Linked DNA regions of Homo sapiens. The protein of the gene in region 1 interacts with the protein of each later gene in a biochemical or structural test. Each region holds a gene or a part of one and is shown in the gene's direction. Other genes may lie near its edges.

The links.
Region 2: the proteins of ARF4 (region 1) and DENND1B form a complex in vitro, tested with the Homo sapiens proteins (one study listed by BioGRID).

The regions. Positions count from the first base shown.
Region 1 is NC_000003.12:57,586,738-57,595,536, reverse strand, and holds part of ARF4 (ADP-ribosylation factor 4), read left to right. Parts: intron 1-8,799.
Region 2 is NC_000001.11:197,771,312-197,781,009, reverse strand, and holds the start of DENND1B (DENN domain-containing protein 1B), read left to right. Parts: upstream 1-5,529; 5' UTR 5,530-5,854; coding exon 5,855-5,871; intron 5,872-5,931; exon of another isoform or gene 5,932-6,362; coding exon of another isoform or gene 6,363-6,523; intron 6,524-8,077; coding exon 8,078-8,142; intron 8,143-9,698. UniProt on the Homo sapiens protein: Guanine nucleotide exchange factor (GEF) for RAB35 that acts as a regulator of T-cell receptor (TCR) internalization in TH2 cells. Acts by promoting the exchange of GDP to GTP, converting inactive GDP-bound RAB35 into its active GTP-bound form.

The DNA.
Region 1 (8,799 bases):
TTTGTGAATCAATTGTTTATGAGTCATTCATAAAGTATTTTTTCTTTCAAAGTTTCTTAGATTTCCTTTGTCAAGAGGACAGAATTATTTTAGGAGGGCAAGCATATTTAAGTTTTCAGTGGCTGAAAGTTGGCAGTCTGAAAAAGGATCGGAAGTTAATGGGAGGACTTCGGACTGTGATAAATGAATTTCCAGTCTGTTCGTTAAAGAGATTTAACAATATATGGTTATGTTCCAGAACACATAGTATATTGGTCTTTTTACTTAAGATTTATTGTAAATGAATTGCTATTTTTCAATTCCTTAGTCTTTTGTGATTGATGAAAGTATCAGAGGGGCAAGGAATATAGAAGTATGCTACCAGCATTTTCATATATTTACTATATTGGGAGGCATTTCCCTCCACCCCAAAAAATGATTCGAAGAAAATGGGAGAGAAAAAATATTTAAGTTTCTGCATTTGTGTGGAGGATTTAGGAGTTACTTGTTTTTAATGTTTTATTACTCAGGCATGCTATCGTTTTGCACTTTAATTTTGGGATAATCAGTTTTCCTTGACTAAAAAACACTTCAGTCACAAGATCGACATTTATGGTAACTCATCAAAGGAAGTATCAACGTACGAGGGAGATATGTGCATGAACAGGGAAAAAGGTGGTTTGGAAGTTTGATAATTCTTACATTTTTCTGTCTGGCTTTATGAGTGACTGACAGCAAAAATAATAGATCACTTTTAAAGTGTCTGCCCCATTCAACTGTTGGAATTATTAATGTTTTACATTAGTGTGCTTCGTTTTTCTTTATAAAGCTTAGATAAGATTCATGCCCTCCTGAGTCAGTGTTTTATTCAGACTTTACCATTTTAAAGTATAAAGGAGATAGCAGTTAGCTGATGTGTCAGGTTTGCCAAACTACTATGGAGAAGTTTTAAATTTAATTCGTACACCTGCTGTTCTTCAAAAGTTCAAGTAACTTTAAAAGATATTGGAAGTTAGCTTGTAGTTAACTGTAATTAAAAAACCAACACAGTGTATCAAATTTAACATCATCTGAACTATTGATTGACAGAAATTATGTACTAGTTATAAGGGTAAGTTATGCAAGTGATGATATTGCCCATACTGCTCGAGTTAGGAAGCAATAGCTTCTGGCCAGGTGTGGTGGCTCACGCCTATTATCCCAGCACTTTGGGAGGCCAGGTTGGGAGGATCACATTGAGGCCAGCCTGGTCAACATAGCAAGACCCCGTATCTATTTGAAAAAAATAAAAATAAAGCAATAGCGTCTGTATTTTATTTTGTTTATTTTTTTTGAGATGGAGTTTCACTCTTGTCTCCCAGGCCAGAGTGCAATGGCATGATCTAGGCTCACTGCAACCTCTGCCTCCTCAGTAGCTGGGATTACAAGCGCCCGCCACCAAGCCCAGCTAATGTTTGTATTTTTAGTAGAGACGGGGTTTCACCATGTTGGCCAGGCTAGTCTCGAACTCCTGACCTCAGGTGATCCACCTGCCTTGGCCTCCCAAAGTGCTAGGATTACAAGCATGAGCCATCACACCCAGCCAGCTTCTGTATTTTGTATATATTTTTTAAATAATTATGTTTTTTTTCCTTTTGAGTAGCTGAGACAACAAGGACATGCCATTAGACCTGCCTGGCTAATTTTTGACATTTTTTGTAGCAAGAAGGTCTCACTATCTTGCCTGTTCTTGGGCTGAAGCGATCCCGCCCACCTCGGCCTCGAAAAGTGCTAGGGTTACAGGGCGAGCCACTGAGCCTGGCTGCATTGTCCTATTTTAAGTCTGGTTTCTGTATCTTGATCCATGATAAGATGTAATGTTGTTAAGTGAATCCTTAAATTATGTATATATCCAAAAATACTAATGTGTTCTGCAGAGGAATTACTAATTCTGATCTCTTTACTTTGAACTTTCCAGTTCTTGCCTGTTGAAAAGCTGAAAAAGTGTTACTTTTAAAAAGTTTGCTGATATCAGTGTAGTGTAGTATGCCAGTGTAGTTCTGTATTGTCTTGAATGTGACTGTGGTTTTGGGGGTCTAGAGATGTTCAGGAGAAAGGATCCTATATTTGTCACTTTAAAAAATATTACCAAGCTAAAGAGTGGTGTTTTATATTTGTTTCTTAGCATATTTTGTAAATCCATCTATTTATGTAATTTTTTTATGTTTTTCCTCTTGATTCTAAAAGTAGTATGTGTTCCTTCTGTTACATTTAGAAAACAGGTAAAAGAATAAAGTGATAATTACCTATCTGTAATTCCACTATTCTGTCATATTTACTCTCAGCCTTATTTTTATTTTTATTTTTTGAGACAGGGTTTTGCTCTGTCACCCATACTCTGGGGCACATACAGGTGGCATGATCATAGCTCACTGTAGCCTTGAACTCCTGGATTCAAGCAATCCCTCCTGCCTTAGGCTCTGGAGTAGCTAGGACTACAGGCGCCACTATGCCCGGCTAATTTTTAAATTATTTTGTAGAGAATGGGGGTCTTGCTCTGTTGCCCAGCTGATCTCAAACTCCTGGGCTCAAGAGGTCCTCCTGCCTCGACCTCCCAAAGTGCTAGGATGACAGGTGTAAGCCACCACACCTGGTACACGCTCAGCCTTTTAAGAGGAAGTTTTTGTTCCTCTAAAATTGTAGTTGTGATGTTTAGTTTTGTGTCCTCTCTTTTTGATTTAGCTTATTACAAGCATTTTCTCAGGTTATTGGTTGAACATATAACTGCCAGCCTTTAAAAAAACAGGCTCTTCTGATTATGTGAATATAGGAAACAGAAAAGGCAAAAATCCTGTTTCATGCCACTGGCTGATAGGTACAGCCATCCTTAGATGCACCCTTTTGCATTATTATAGTAGTGCAATAGGCTGTCGGAAACTTTGATAATTTGCTGCTAATTAACTGATAAAAATGTAGATGTTTCTCATCCGTGTGTAGAAGCAGAACCTAAGTTCACATTTTTCCGTATAACTGGTGGCCTGAGTTTCAGTTTGGTTGGTCAAGCATCTGATGAATTTGATAAAAAATATTTGAGATGGAGTCTCACTGTGTCACCCAGGCTCGAGTACAGTGGTGCAATCTCAGGTCACTGCAACCTCCGCCTCCTGGGTTCAAGCAATCCTTCTGCCTCAGTCTCTCCAGTAGCTGGGATTACAGGCCCCCTCCCACCATGCCCGGCTAATTTTCATATTTGTAGTAGAGAGGGTTTCACCATATTGGTCAAGCTGGTCTCAAACTCCTGACCTCAGGTGATCCACCTGCCTCATTCTCCCAAAGTGCTGCGATTACAGGCATGAGTCACCGTGCCTGGCCAAAATATTAAGATACAGTATGTCCACCAGAAAAACCTAAAGGCAGGATGGCAGCATGTAAATAGTATTTGAGGTCTCTGGCATCAGAACTAGGTTTTTTGGTTTTGGCTTTTTAGAAAATTTTTTAATAAAAAAATCAAGATATAATACATAGACCATAAAGTTTACCCTGTTAAAGTGTACAGTTCCGTGGGTTTTAGTATATGTATTCAAAGTTGTGTAACCATCACCATTGTCTAATTCCAGAATTTTTCATCATCCCTCAAAGAAACCTGATACCCATTAGTAATAATTCCCATTCCCCTTTCTTCCCAGCCCGTAATCTGTTTTCTGTTTCTATGGGTTAATCTATTCCGGACACTTCATTTAATGGAATCATGATTTATGGCCTCTTTGTCTGGCTTTTTTCACTTGGCATGATGTTGTCAAAGTTCATTCATAATGGCCGGGCGCGGTGGCTCACGCCTGTAATCCCAGCACTTTGGGAGGCTGAGGCGGGCAGATCACGAGGTCAGGAGTTCGAGACCAGCCTGGACAACATAGTGAAACCCCATCTATACTCAAAATACAAAAATTAGCCGGGTGTGGTGGCAGATACCTGTAGTCCCAGCAACTCAGGAGGCCGAGGCACGAGAATCCCTTGAACCCGGGAGGTGGAGGTTGCAGTGAGCTGAGATCGTGCCATTGCACTCCAGCCTAGGTGACAGAGTGAGACTCTGTCTCAAAAAAAAAAAAAGAAAAGAAAAGAGAAGAAAAAAGTTCATTCATATTATAGCGTATATTAGTACTTCATTCTTTTTTTTTTCCTTTTCATTAAATTCACATAAGCACCTCATTTCTTTTGATGGCCAAATAGTAATTACATTGTATGGATAAACCACATTTTATTTATCCATTCATCAGATGATAAAAATTAGGTTGTTTTCACTTTCTAGCTCTTCAACATTCATGAACAAGTTTTTGTGTGGGCATGTGTTTTAAATTCTCTGATAAATACTTAGGAGCGGAATTGTGTCATGGTAACCGTCTTGAACATTTTGAGGACCTGACAAACATTTCCATTTTACATCCTCGTTTACATCCCCACTAGCAATATATGAGGGTTCTAATTTTTCTGCAAGACTCAGGTTTTTAAATATCTGTTCTTCTGTTTCTGTGACTGTGGGGGACATTTCTGGACATTAAATGTCTCATCTGAAAAATGAAAGGTTATTGTGAGAATTAAAGTCCAAAAATGTATAGAATCACCTACTATGCTTAGAATGCAGTAAATATTCAATTTTAAATTATTATTTTAAACTATTACGCAGCCTGGGCACCATACCATGGCAAGACCTCATCTCTACAAAAAAATTTTAAAAATTAGCTGGGCATGGTGGCGTGCCCCTGTAGACCCAGCTACTAGGGAGGCTGAGGTGGGAGGATTGCTGGAGCCCAGGAGTTTGAGGCTACAGTGAGCCATGTTTGCACCACTGCACTCCAGGCTGGGTGACAGATCGAGACCCTGTCTCAAAAAACAAATGTATATATATGTACACACACACACTTATAATTATGAAGGTATATTTCAAACTTGTAGATAATTTGAAAGATAAAGGAAAACATGAAAAATCTTTTTATCCATCTGAAAATACTCTTTTGTCTTTCCAGTCTTACTCCTTTCTGCAATATTTTTTTCTCCCTCAAAGTTGAGATCATTGGATCTAACTTTTTTCTTTTTTTGAGACGGAGTCTTGCTTTGTTGCCTAGGCTAGAGTGCAGTGGCGCAATCTCGGCTCACTACAGACTCCGCCTCCCGGGTTCAAGCGATTCTCCTGCCTCAGCCTCCCAAGTAGCTGGGATTACAGGCACCCGCCACTGCGCCCGGCTAATTTTTGTATTTTTTAGTAGAGACAGGGTTTCACCATCTTGGCCAGGCTGGTCTCAAACTCCTGACCTCATGATCCATCCACCTCAGCCTCCCAAAGTGCTGGGATTACAGGTGTGAGCCACTGCACCCGGCCTCAATTTTTCATCACTAATTATGATACTAGCTGTAGGTTTTTTATAGATGTTCTTTTTTTGTTTTTTGTTTTATTTATTTATTTATTTATTTATTTATTTATTTATTTATTTATTGAGACAGAGTCTTGGTCTGTTGCCCAGGCTGGAGTGCAGTGGCATGATCTCGACTCACTGCGCCTCCACCTCCCGGGTTCAAGCAATTCTCCTGCCTCAGCCTCCCGAGTAGCTGGGATTACAGGCGCCCGCCACCATGCCTGGCTAATTTTTGTATTTTTAGTAGAGATGGGGTTTCACCATGTTGGCCAGGCTGGTTTCAAACTCCTGGCCTCATGATCCACCCTCCTCGGCCTCCTAAAGTGCTGGGATTTCAGGTGTGAGCCACCGTGCCCGGCTGGATCTAACTTTTTAAATTTAAAATGTAAGTATTTCTTGCTGCCATAATTATGGGCAAAGGTTTGTTTTTTTGGGTTTTTTGTTTGTTTTTTTGAGACGGAGTCTCGCTTTGTTGCCCAGGCTGGAGTGCCGTGGCGCGGTATGGGCTCACTGTAACCTCCACCTCCCGGGTTCAAGCGATTCTCCTGCCTCAGCCTCCCAAGTAGCTGGGTTTACAGGCGCCAGCCACCACGCCTAGCTAATTTTTGTATTTTTAGTAGAGACTGGGTTTCACCACGTTGGCCAGGCTGGTCGCGAACTGCTGACCTCGTGATCCACCCACTTCAGCCTCCCAAAGTGCTGGGATTACAGGTGTGAGCCACGGGGCCCGGCCTTGTTTGTTTGAGACAGGATCTTGCTCTGTTGCTTACGCTGAATTGCAGTGGTGTGATCATGGCTCGCTGCAGCCTTGATCCCCTGGGCTCAAGGGATCCTCCTGCCTCAGCCTCCCACGTAGCTGGGAATATAGATGGGCACCACCCTGCCTAATTTTTGTTTGTTTTGAGACAGGGTCTCAATTCTGTTGCCCAGGCTGAAGCACAGTGGTGCGATCACAGCTCACTGCAGCCTTGACCTCCTGGGGTCAAGTGATCCTCCCATCTCAGCCTCACCCAGTAGCTGGGACTACAGGCATGTGCCATCACAACCGGCTAATTTTTTTTTTTTTTTGAGACGGAGTTTTGCTCCTGTTGCCCAGGTTGGAGTGTAATGGCGCGATCTCAGCTCACTGCGACCTCCGCCTCTCAGGTTCAAGCAATTCTCCTGCCTCAGCCTCCCGAGTAGCTGGGATTACAGGCATGTGCCACTACACCCAGCTAATTTTGTATTTTTAGTAGAGACGGGCTTTCTCCATGTTGGTCAGGCTGGTCTCTAATTCCTGACTTCAGGTGATCCACCTGCCTTGGCTTCCCAAAGTGCTGGGATTACAGGTGTGAGCCACTGTGCCTCACTCACACCTGGCTAATTTTTGTATTTTTTGTAGTGACAGGGTTTTGCCATGTTGTCCAGGCTGGTCACAAACTCCTGAGCTCAGGTCATCCACCTGCCTCAGCCTCCCAACATGCTGGGATTACAGGTGTGAGTAGAGACGGGCTTTCTCCATGTTGGTCAGGCTGGTCTCTGACTCCTGACTTCAGGTGATCCACCCGCCTTGGCTTCCCAAAGTGCTGGGATTACAGGTGTGAGCCACTGTGCCCCACTCACACCTGGCTAATTTTTGTATTTTTTGTAGTGACAGGGTTTTGCCATGTTGTCCAGGCTGGTCACAAACTCCTGAGCTCAGGTCATCCACCTGCCTCAGCCTCCCAACATGCTGGGATTACAGGTGTGAGCCACCATGCACAGCTTCCCAGCTAATTTACTTTTTCTTCTTTAAAGATGGATCTCGCTATGTTGACCAGGCTGGTTTCAAACTCCTGGGCTCAAGCGATCCGCCTGCCTCAGCCTCCCAAAGTGCTAGGATTACAGGTGTGAGTGACTGCCTGGCCAGCAAAGATTTCTGAGGTAGTTTTCCTGCTATAGTAACACTTTGGTCAAAGTGCAGGTCTAGTTAAGGAGAACAAGTATTCCAGTACATCTTTAAATACAGTTGCTTGTTTCTGGACACGGAGGGGAGGGAGACCATTGCTGGGCTATACAGATTAGTCTTATCTTGGCTAGTTGAAAATTGGTAATAGTTTTCATTTTGTGGAGAAATTTCATTGCCAAATATTGCAACATTAAGGAAATACATAAGAAATGACTGAAGTGGCTCAAAATTGTTGGACCAATATGTTTTTGAGTAAAGAACTATAAGTTTTAAGTGATGACTGTATATGTTTAATTCGTGCATTAAAGCTTATAAATACCTTTTTCAAAAACTCTTAATTTGCATTTATACAGCATTGTTATTTTTGATACAACTGCATAAGATACATTCTGTGTTGCTGTGAGCCATTAAACTGTTGTCTTGTAATTTATATTTAGAAAATAATTTGTGGATACTTAAAAGTCATTATGGGCGCATTATTTTTTCCCCTTGAATTCTGGGGTGACCTAGAAATGGTTGCATGATTTTGTAAACACTTCCCTTTTTAAAAAAGTAAAATGAGTATGTAAAATATTATATATTTAAAGCCCTCAAGCAGTCGTCTTCAAAAAGATACATCAGGAAATGTAAACAGCCCAACATTTTAATTAAAAAAAATCTGCTTGGACAATTTTTTTTCTCTTTTCATAAAAGTAATACATGATTTTTGGGTAAAAAAAAATTCCTATCAGTAGAGGAGCAAGGAAAATAATTATTCATACAGTATTCATACAAGCACATATAAAACCTATTAAAAGAAAACTTGGATTACCTACATGCTTTTGTATAATTTAAAATGATATAGTCATGATTTGTCTTGGATTTCTTCAATTCTTTTCTTTGTCAGTATTTTTGGATTTACTTTTTTTTTTTTTTTTTTTTTTTGAGACTGAGTTCCGCTCTTGTTGTCCAGGCTGTAGTGCAATGGCACGATCTCGGCTCACTGCAACATCCGCCTCCTGGGTTCAAGCGAGTCTCCTGCCTCAGCCTCCAGAGTATCTGGGATTATAGGCATATGCCACCACATCCAGCTAGTTTCTGTATTTTTAGTAGAGACGGGATTTTACCATGTTGGCCAGGCTGGTCTCAAACTCCTGGCCTCAGGTGATTCGCCCACCTCAGCCTCCCAAAGTACTGTGATTACAGGCATGAGCCACAGCGCCAGGCCTTACCTTGTTTTTAAATGACAATCTGAGGTCCAGTTGGACCTCCGGTGATAACTGGCAGGTACCATAGTTTTGTGTGTGTGCGTGTGTGTGTGTGTTTCTTAATCAGCGTCTCAGTTTCAATTCTGACTTGGCTTAATCATATTTGAACTTAAAGGTTAATTTTGGTTAACTTAAAAATCTGATGCTTTCAAGAGACAGCTTTGTTGGACCATTTAAAGATCCAGTTGTTTTTTGCCACCCCCCTTTGTTTTATATCTTGTTACTAAAGATGCCAAACTTTAATGTAGCTCCTTTTTAT
Region 2 (9,698 bases), on another chromosome or scaffold:
TCAATGAATAAGTGGTTGGGGTTGGGAAGCCAGGAGTTACCTTTCTAATTGTCATAGTACACTGGAAATCAGGGCAGTTGGCTCACTAAAAGCCCTGAACTTGGGTTTCTCTACACCATTAATATATAGGGATATATAAGTTGGGGACTTTTTGGACCTGGTTTGAGGAAAGTGGACCTTATTAGGTGGATTAAAAAGTTGCAATTAGTCCATTTTACATGACACTATAGTCAGAACCAAGTAATTATCCATTATAGTCTGATCAAAACTTGCATGAAAATCAACTAAAAATTCAGAATTAAGTATTTTTAAAAGCTTGCAATGCATTGAAGAGCAGGCAATCAAGTGAGAATACTTAGGGGTGGAGGATGGGGGACAAATAAAAGTAGCTACAAGAGCCACCTCTCTCTGTAATCCCAGCACTTTGGGAGGCCGAGGTGGGTGGATCACGAGGTCAAGAGATGGAGACCGTCCTGACCAACATGGTGAAACCCTGCCTCTACTAAAAATACAAAAATTAGCTAGGCGTGATGGCAGGTGCCTGTAGTTCCAGCTACTCGGGAGGCTGAGGCAGGAGAATTGCTTGAACCCAGGAGGTGGAGGTTGCAGTGAGCCAAGATCACGCCACTGCACTCCAGCCTGGCGACAGAGCGAGACTCCATCTCAAAAAAAAAAAAAAAAAGAAAAGCCACCTTTCATCTTCATCTTTAGGGTTTTTCCTAAGCTGGATGAACTGGAAGACCATGAACTGTTATCATGGTCTTATGGGTCTTCAGACCCTTCCTAATGTGGGAAATCCAACAGGATACTCTTCATAAAGCTGATACACCCCAAAGGTATTCAAGGACAATTGTCTCAAACAATGGAGCATAGTTAAGGGGAAAAAAGCTTCCCAGAGGATTCATAGCTACAAACCAGGTCTCACATGAATGGTCTGAAGAATTTCAAGCTGAGAATTTAGTGTTTATGTTTCTGAATTGCTAGTGATCCCAAGCATCTACCAGCAGTAAATTAATATCTTCTCCAGAGAACTCATTTTCATTTCAGCTGTCACTCAATTTCTATATATAAAGTTCTAAGGATCACATAACATAAAAAGAAATCACATACATAGAAGAAATCAAGAGACCATAAGTATGAACAAGTAGAAAAAAGATCAGTTAGTAGAAGCAGACCCACAAATGCTTCAGATATTGGAATTTTTAGAAATAGAATTTAAAGTATATATATTAAATATTTTTAATAAATTAAAGAGATGCTGAAAATATGAGTTAAGAGAATACAGATTTGGAAAATAACCAAACAGAACTTTAGAAATAAAAATAATATAAATTAAAAACTAAATGGGTGACTTTGACAGAAAATGAGACAAAGCTGAAGAAAGAATTAGTGAACAGAATATTTTTGAAATTTTCCAGAATACAGCGTAGACAGATAAAGAGAGACATACTATAAAAGAGATGTTTGACAAACATGGAGGGTAGAATAACACATGTGTTATCAGAGTCCCAGAAGGAATGGAAAGAAAGGAGTCCAGAATTTTCCAGAACTGATGAAAGTCACCAATCCAGAGTCAAGAAAATTAAAGAAACCAAGAAACATGGATGAATAAAAATCTACACCTAGATACTTCACAGTGAAACTATAGAAAACTAAAGACAAAAATGAAACATCATAAATGCAGTCAGAGAGAAAAAACAGATGACATTTTAAGATTACTTTCAAAGTTCCAATTGTTATTAGGGAACTTAGAAGACAGTGTAATGATATTGATAACATGCAGAAAGAAATAATAGTAAACTTTGAATTCTTCATCAGTGAAAATATTTTTCAAGAGTGAGGGATAAATAAATACATTCCAACTCAAACAAAAAGGGAAAGAATTTTAGGCAGAAGGAAAGTGATCCTACACAGAAGATCTAAAATGAAAATACAAAAGAATGGTAAAGTTCTGAGTAAATCTAAACAAACATGGACTGTATAAAACAACATTCATAATGCATTTTTGGGGGGATTTTAGTTTTGAGGGGGTTTTAGAGGTTCTTGTATTGTTTGAGAGAGGGTGGATATCCTTGTGAACTCTGGCTTTAATCAGTTAAAATGTACCTATTAAAATTTCTAGGATAACTCCTAAATGAATAGAAACAGAGTAAATAACTTCCAAACTAGAAGAGGTGGGGGCAGAAATGAAAGCATAAATAGTAATCCTAAAGAATGCAAAAGTGAAAGAAAAAAACAGATCAGAAGAAACAAACGGGAAGTACAAAATTAGATGGCAGAAATAGATTTAAATTTATCAGCATTTTTCTCTCTTTTTTTTTTTTAATTTTTTTTAGACAGTGTCTCACTCTGTCAACCAGGCTGCAATGCAGCGGCATGATCTTGGCTCACTGCAACCTCTGCCTCCCAGGTTCAAGTGATTCTGAAGCCTCAGCCTCCTTATTATCTGGGACTACAGGCTTGCACCACCCACCACACCCAGCTAATTTTTGTATTTTTAGCAGACAGGGTTTCACCAAGTTGGCCAGGCTGGTCTTGAACTCCTGGCCTCAACTAATCTACCCGCCTTAGCCTCCCAAAGTGATGGGATGACAGGCATGAGCCACTGCGCCCAGCCTAAATTTATCAACAGTTTTAATACATGCAAATTGTCTAGGGGTTTGATGTAAGAGCTAAAGATGATCAGACTAGATTAAAAATCAAGACTAAAAATTTTAGATAAATTTGAAACATGATGGTTTAGAAAGTTTGAATGTAAAAGGATGAAAAGAGATATCCTAACATCAGACAAATACTATTCAGAAGAAAACTGTTTAGAATCTAAGGCAAAAGTACGATTGGAGGTAAAGAAAGTAACAACATAATGATGAATGGTTGTATTTATTAGGTAGATATAGAAATTATAAACTGATGTGTATATTATTACACAGCCCCAAACTGTGTAAGGTAGAACCTGAAAGAACTATAGGCTGAAATAGAAAAATCTACCATCATGTTGGGATATTTAAACTCATCTCTCCCATTAATTGAATTATGTCAAGCAGATGCAAATTCAGTAATAGAAGATGTCAACAACACAATCATCGTATTTGATCATGGACATATATTTAGAACACTGTACCCCAAAGCTGCAGAATATATATTCTTTACAAACCACATACAACATTTAAGTCTTGAAACATTTAAAAAATTAACTAAATTAATTAATTAATAAGAAATTAATTAATAAATAAAGACCATGTTCTTTGACAACAATACAGACTATGTTCTTTGACTGGTATGGTCCTGAAAACTGTTAATATTAATTGTCGAGTAGGAAATATCATTGCTGAAATATGATCTTGGGAAGATTTAAGACTAATTTGAAGGTTTGCCCTTTGTACACTTCTCTATCAGTCATATGGGAAGTTCTATATGAAATGAGTATTACTAAAGTTATACCATCGATTTCATTAAAGCTATTACCAAGGTAAGTGTATGATATTTGTTTTCTAATTTTTTAACACCTCATGCATGTAGATCATGTACACCTATGTTCCTATCCCTTTTATTTCAGTAATAACAGAACAGATAAATCTCTTCATTATGGTCAGCCTAAAAGCTCACTTAAAAAGATTTGCTTTGGGATGCGAATGTGTAGTATTTCCCTCGATGTACTTAACATAAATGGAATGAAGAACAATTTTATACTGTTCAAGGGTATGACTGTCATTTAAAATAAAATCCCAACAATGGATGAGGAAAACAATTGTATTATTATCTCCTCACACCAAATTAAAAAGTCCTCAATATGGTCACCCCAAGTAGGGTTCCTTTCTTTGGAAATAATTAATTATAATGAAAGGAGAAGTTTGAGAAATTCAGTAACAGTTGGGGCAGAAGTGGCTTTTAGCTTACGAATTTTTTTTTTCAAGGCTTTGGAGTATGGTCACTTATGCAGAAAAATCTTTATTTGGGAAAAGAAAACTTATGTAGTATAGTTTGCCTAATTGTGAAACTGAAATTCACAGAATAATTTCTCAAAAGATAATACAAATTTGTAGCACCTGTTTTACTTGAACATCACACTGCTCATGTGATGTACAAGTAATAATTCCCATTTTACAAATGTAGGAACCGAGAAACTGAAGTGTCTCACCCCGAGTCAAGCTATGACAACACTTTATGATAAACACATTTTTTTTTTGTTTGTTTGTTTCCCAGTTATGGCCCGTCCTCATTTTTTACTAACAGGCCCATGGCTATACAATATTTCTGATCCTGTTGACCAAGTAGTACCCAATTTTGGCAAGAAAGTTTAAGGTTATATAACTGAGTGCAACTTCAGGTTCTCTGACTCTTGAGTTTTTTAATTCTTAAGACTCCTTTTCTGACTTTTATGTCTTATGACTCACACTACATTCATACCACATTTGGTTTCCTCTCATCATCTTAACTTCTGCATGAATAAAGTCTGAAGTAACCACCTTTTGGAAGAAACACTGTGGCTATGTGTCAAGGGTGGCAGTGTTAGCTGGGAGAAGGCCTTTCCCAGAAGATCTCTGTGTAAGAGCCTGGCCTTCCACAGTCATTTGAATGTCCATCATAAGACTTTTCTACCTGTCTTCTCAGTAGATCCTAAATATGAGACAGCAGAGGAGGGAGACAGGCAATATGAGGTAGAAGTAAATAATCAGCATCAGATAGACCTGGTGTGAACTCCAGCTTTGCCATTACTCCCTGGTTTCTTCATCTGTAAAATGCTGATGAAAGTATCTATCACACACCTATGACAAGTACTGGGTGAGAGTGCACATAACCTGCTTCACATGTGCTTTAGGGCTGTGTAAATCAGTCCCTCCCACGCTTATTCAGTGGTGCCCTCTCTGAACTCGCCTAAACTGCCAGACTATGAGGCCTGCGACTATGTACATGTGTTCAAAAGTTAGTCCTTGGTTATCACTGCAGTCTGTGGTATAGGAATGTCTGCCTCCCACATGCGCAGACAAGTGGGGCACTACCATTTGGCTACTTGACAGGGCTATTTAGCAGGTGCACATGTCTGAACATTCCTGAATCAGGAGGGGGTAGCTCTGGATTTCAGAGAGCTGTAAGCAGGCCACAGCTGGAGTGACGCAAGAGCCAGGGGCATCAACTTGAGCTCTGAATTTGTAGTATGAAATGAAAGGAACCCAAGTCCGTGTGTATGTGTGTGGAAAACACTGCAGGTCGAGGTACTTTTCCAGGTACTTCGCCCTTTGTGGGGTTGCAGCCCCGACGCCCTGGAATCTGGACTGGACCCAGAAAGGAAGCCGGTTTGGTTCATGCTGAGGACACAGGGGGCACCTTGCCTTTCTGGCTAGGTGGCAAAGCGGTACGTGGGCCATCCCAGCAGGCACTAGCGCTCCCCCTGCACCCTCTGGCCGCCCGGGCGCGGGGACCTGGCCCCCGCCTCCTCCACAGTCTCCGACTTGCGAGCCGCACGGCCCAGGTGAAGCCGCTGGGCGCGTCCCCGCGCGCCCCTTCCCCCTCCCGGCGACTTCCTGATTTGCAAGAAGGTGCAGGAGCCGCAGCGGGCGGCCCCGGTCGCAGGAACTGAGAGGCCTCAGCTTTGGTGGCGGCTACCGGCGGAGACGGGGGCGGCGGCCACGCCACCGCTGCTGTCACAGAAAGGCTCTGGTGGGTGGGGTGGGAGGCGGGGAAGTGCCGGGGGCGCAGCCGACATGGGCCCGCCGCCACGGCTGCTGTGAGCAGCCTCTTTCCCTGTGTGGCCGCCGGCGTGGGCGGGGACGGCGCGACCCTCGCGCGGCCGGGCTGCGGGCTTCCAGGCCAGCGCGCGGGGGCCGGACGGACAGCCCCACACCGACATGTAACCATGGACTGCAGGACCAAGTGAGTGGGGGGGCCCGGGCGCGTCGGGGGCGGGCGTCCCTCGGCGGCCCCTCCCAGGCCAGCTCGGCTCCTCCGCGCCTCCGCGCTCAACCGGCTCCCCGGGCGGCCGAGGTTGGCCGGGCGGGCTGGGGGTGCGGTCCGGCCCCCAAGCCTCTGGCCGGCCGGCGGGACGGCGCTAGGCCGCAAAGCCTGCCCGCCCTGCGTCCCCGGCCCTCCGTGGTTGGCGCGGCTCCTCCCGGAGAGGCCACTAGCGCCTTGTCGACGCCCGCCTTTCGGGGGACAGGGGAGGCCGGGCGGCCCCTGACACCGCCGCTGAGGGGTTCTCGTGCTTCCCCCGAGTGTGTCAGATGTGACTCTCCTGGGGCTGCCTGTGTGCGTGTGGTGTCCGGGAGGGAGTCAGCGTTGAGGTTAAGAGGTTATTATTCCGAGTGCTCTCTGAGCATTAAATATAACCGGTGTTTTCTTAAGTCCGTTTGTTACTTTTGTCTTGGATGTTTTCTTATGATTCTGCTTATAAAATTAGATTGGTCTCTGGTGTTTCTTTATGCAGCAACTGTAGATGCATGGTTCTTGCAAAACGGTATCCAATTAGAGGGTACTTTTATGTGTGTGCTAAAGTATTTATCAACGACTACTTTGCTCAGGAGATTAGGTAAAAAGCAATTTTAATAACGGTGGTGATTTTGTTTCTAGGTATCTTAGAGGCATGAGTTTTATATTTTTCTTCTGAAACTTAACTTTGGAAAGAATTCCTTTTTACTTCGCTTACCCACCCTTTACTATCTCCTTCTCAAAAAGTTTAAAATAATGCCATGTATATTTGTATTATTGTGAAAGGCCGTTTGAATTTCACAGAAGTAAAACTGAGTCAATATTTAACTTTTACACCTAAGAGAAATTCTAAAGAATATTAGGGAAAGAGGGAAATTATGTAATAGAATTATTTTCTTCAGTGTGTTTGACATCATGGTGGGCAGGGTAAGTGAGTAAAAATAGTATGCTTCTTGACATTAATTGTTTTAAGAGGGAGGAAGTCATCTGAGCCCAGATTATTCCCATTGAAACAAGTTAATAGCGGAAAGGCTAAAAAAATGTATATTTGCATGTTAATTTATATGTCTTGTCACTTCCTATGTTTCCAGATTCATATCTTATAAGAAAAGCTTCCAAAAAAAGAAATGCTTTTTTTTAAAGTCAGAGCTGGCATTCGTTTCTTGAAGGAAGTACATATTAAATACAGCCAATGTACAAAGGCACTAAGGTCTTGTTAGCAGGAATAACTGAGATATTAACACATTGGCCGTTGTGGTAACAGACTTAATCTTTTACCTTATGATGGAACGAGAGATTTAAACAGCAATGTTATGAAGAAAAAGTGTCTCAGTATATTTCAGTTCACTTTTTGAAATTTAACCAATGTTGCTTTGAAATTTTGCAAATATGGCAAGTTAGTAAAAAAGTCAATAACTTCTGAATTAAGCAAAGTAAACTTACAGTTTCTAGTGGGAAAATCTAACATGGAAGCAGATGGCTGGTTTCTCCAAAGATAATGGATAAAAAGAAGGCTTTTTATGTTGCTAGCCTTAGAGCTATGAATAGTTTGCTACTTTAAATATGCATAAGTACAGTAAATACATTTTAAGAAAAGTATATGCAACGTATCACATTCATGGAGCATTATCAATGTTTTATGGTGATCTAGAACTTGGCAGGTGGAACCATGTATTCATCATTTACACTTATATTGCAAGTCCTTTGGAGACAGCCTGAGAACCTGTGTCAAACTCTGTTGGCAGGGTATAATGACACTTAGGGACACTCTGGCTTTTAAATTTGATCCAATAAGATAAAACCAATACTTTGCATTTTTGTAGCACTTAGTACTTAATGAAGTACTTGCACATATGTTATTTGATTTATAATCCTCACTATTATTCTGTGAAGTGGACAAGGCACCTCATAGGTAAGGGAGAACAGTCTCAGCGTTTAAATGCTTTGCCCCAAGTTTCAGAATTCCTAAGTCTCAGCTCTTTTAAGTTGCTCAATTGAGAAAACAGTTTCATTGTTATTTCTACTATACTGTAGTAATACAGTCACGTGAAATGTATTGAGACAAAAACAAGATTAGTTTTAGAATTAAGAAAATACAAGTTTCATGGAGATGTTTATTTGTCATAGGAAATTAATTTAAACTTTTTCCTTTTAGGGCAAATCCAGACAGAACCTTTGACTTGGTGTTGAAAGTGAAATGTCATGCCTCTGAAAATGAAGGTATGTGTCTTCTGTGTTCTGTTATTTGACAAGGTCTCTTTTTTTTGGGACAAGATCTCATTCTGTTCCTCAGGCTGTGCAGTGGCATGATCAGGGCTCACCACAACCTCTCCTTCCCGGGTTCAGGTGATCCTCCCACCTCAGCCTCCCGAGTAGCTGGAGCTACCAATGCACACCACCATGCTCAGCTAATTTTTGTATATTTTTTTGTGGAGACAGGGTTCACCACGTTGCCCAGGCTGGTCTTGAACTCCTGGGCTCAAGTGATCCACCCACCTTGCCCTCCCAAATTGTTGGGATTACAGGCGTGAGCCACTGTGCCTGGCCTGTTCTGTTAATTCTTAAAATAATTGATTGAATCTGTCAAAGCAAGTGTTAATATTGTGGACTGCTGGAACATGGTAGTAATAGGAAAATAATACTACTAAATGTGTATTCTGCATTGAGTGTCTCAAGTTGCTGGTAATAAAATAGGTGTTAAGTCTTTGCCCTGGGATTGTAAAAATCATGAATGTTATCAGTGCAGCTTGAATTTCAGGTGTGTTGTTAAGCCCATATAACTTACAACTCAGCTTCACCATTCGTTGGTAAAGTTATCATTAGTTTTGGTGAAAGGGCGAATCTTTTCATTTTCTTTCATTTATGTTTGGAAATTTAGTGTCTTTTTTTAAACATTAGTGCACATTCTCCTGCTAGTACCAATGGAAACTACACCACTTCCCTTCTGATGTTTCCAGAACGCAGAATGCAGACTGAGTAGCCCCTTCTGTTGGATTTACTCCAATAGCACAGCACTTTTGCAGGGAGGTAAACGATAGTGTGAAATTACTTGGAAGGGTTTCAGCTGTCAGTTCCGTACAATTTCCTGAAAAGATGAGAGCATAATACTTTAATGTCATGATTTTCATCATTTCCCTCCACTTTTGTCATATTGTGTATTGTGCATATGTGTGGTAGGCGGCAGGGTTAGCAGACAAGAATAAGGAATTCTTTTCTTGCCTATTTTCTTTTAATGTGTTCTTGCATGGTATGTCTTTCTAGATACTTAAAGTATATGTCTTTACTTGCTGTGTGCTTAGACCCTGGATAGCATGATGATTAAGCATAGGGGTTTCGTGGAGACTGATTGGCCATCCTAAAGCCTTGGAGGAAAGTCTGCTGACAATTTTAGCTTCAGAAACTATCCAGCAATTACCTACTCTTAAGTAATTTGGAGCTGCACACCTTAAAATAGAGAAGCCCAACCCAGTTGTGGTGAAATGGGCATGGCTAATTTTAGTATGAAGTCACATATTGTTGGCTCCACCAGCCCTACTACTGTACTCCTGGTCTATCTGAACTGCAGCTGTGGTCAGGTTTGTCTATTGGCAAGGAGTGATCCTAGGTTGTAGGGAGCCTTTTCTAGTTGATGAAGTTATCTTTTATTGTCCTGTATGTAGTAAAGTTTGTCCATTTGCATTATTTTGAGCCCCAACCGGGTCCTCTTTGAAGAATGGATATATTAGGTAGAATGGATACTCAAATGGATACATTATGTTTTCAGCTCCAATTTAATT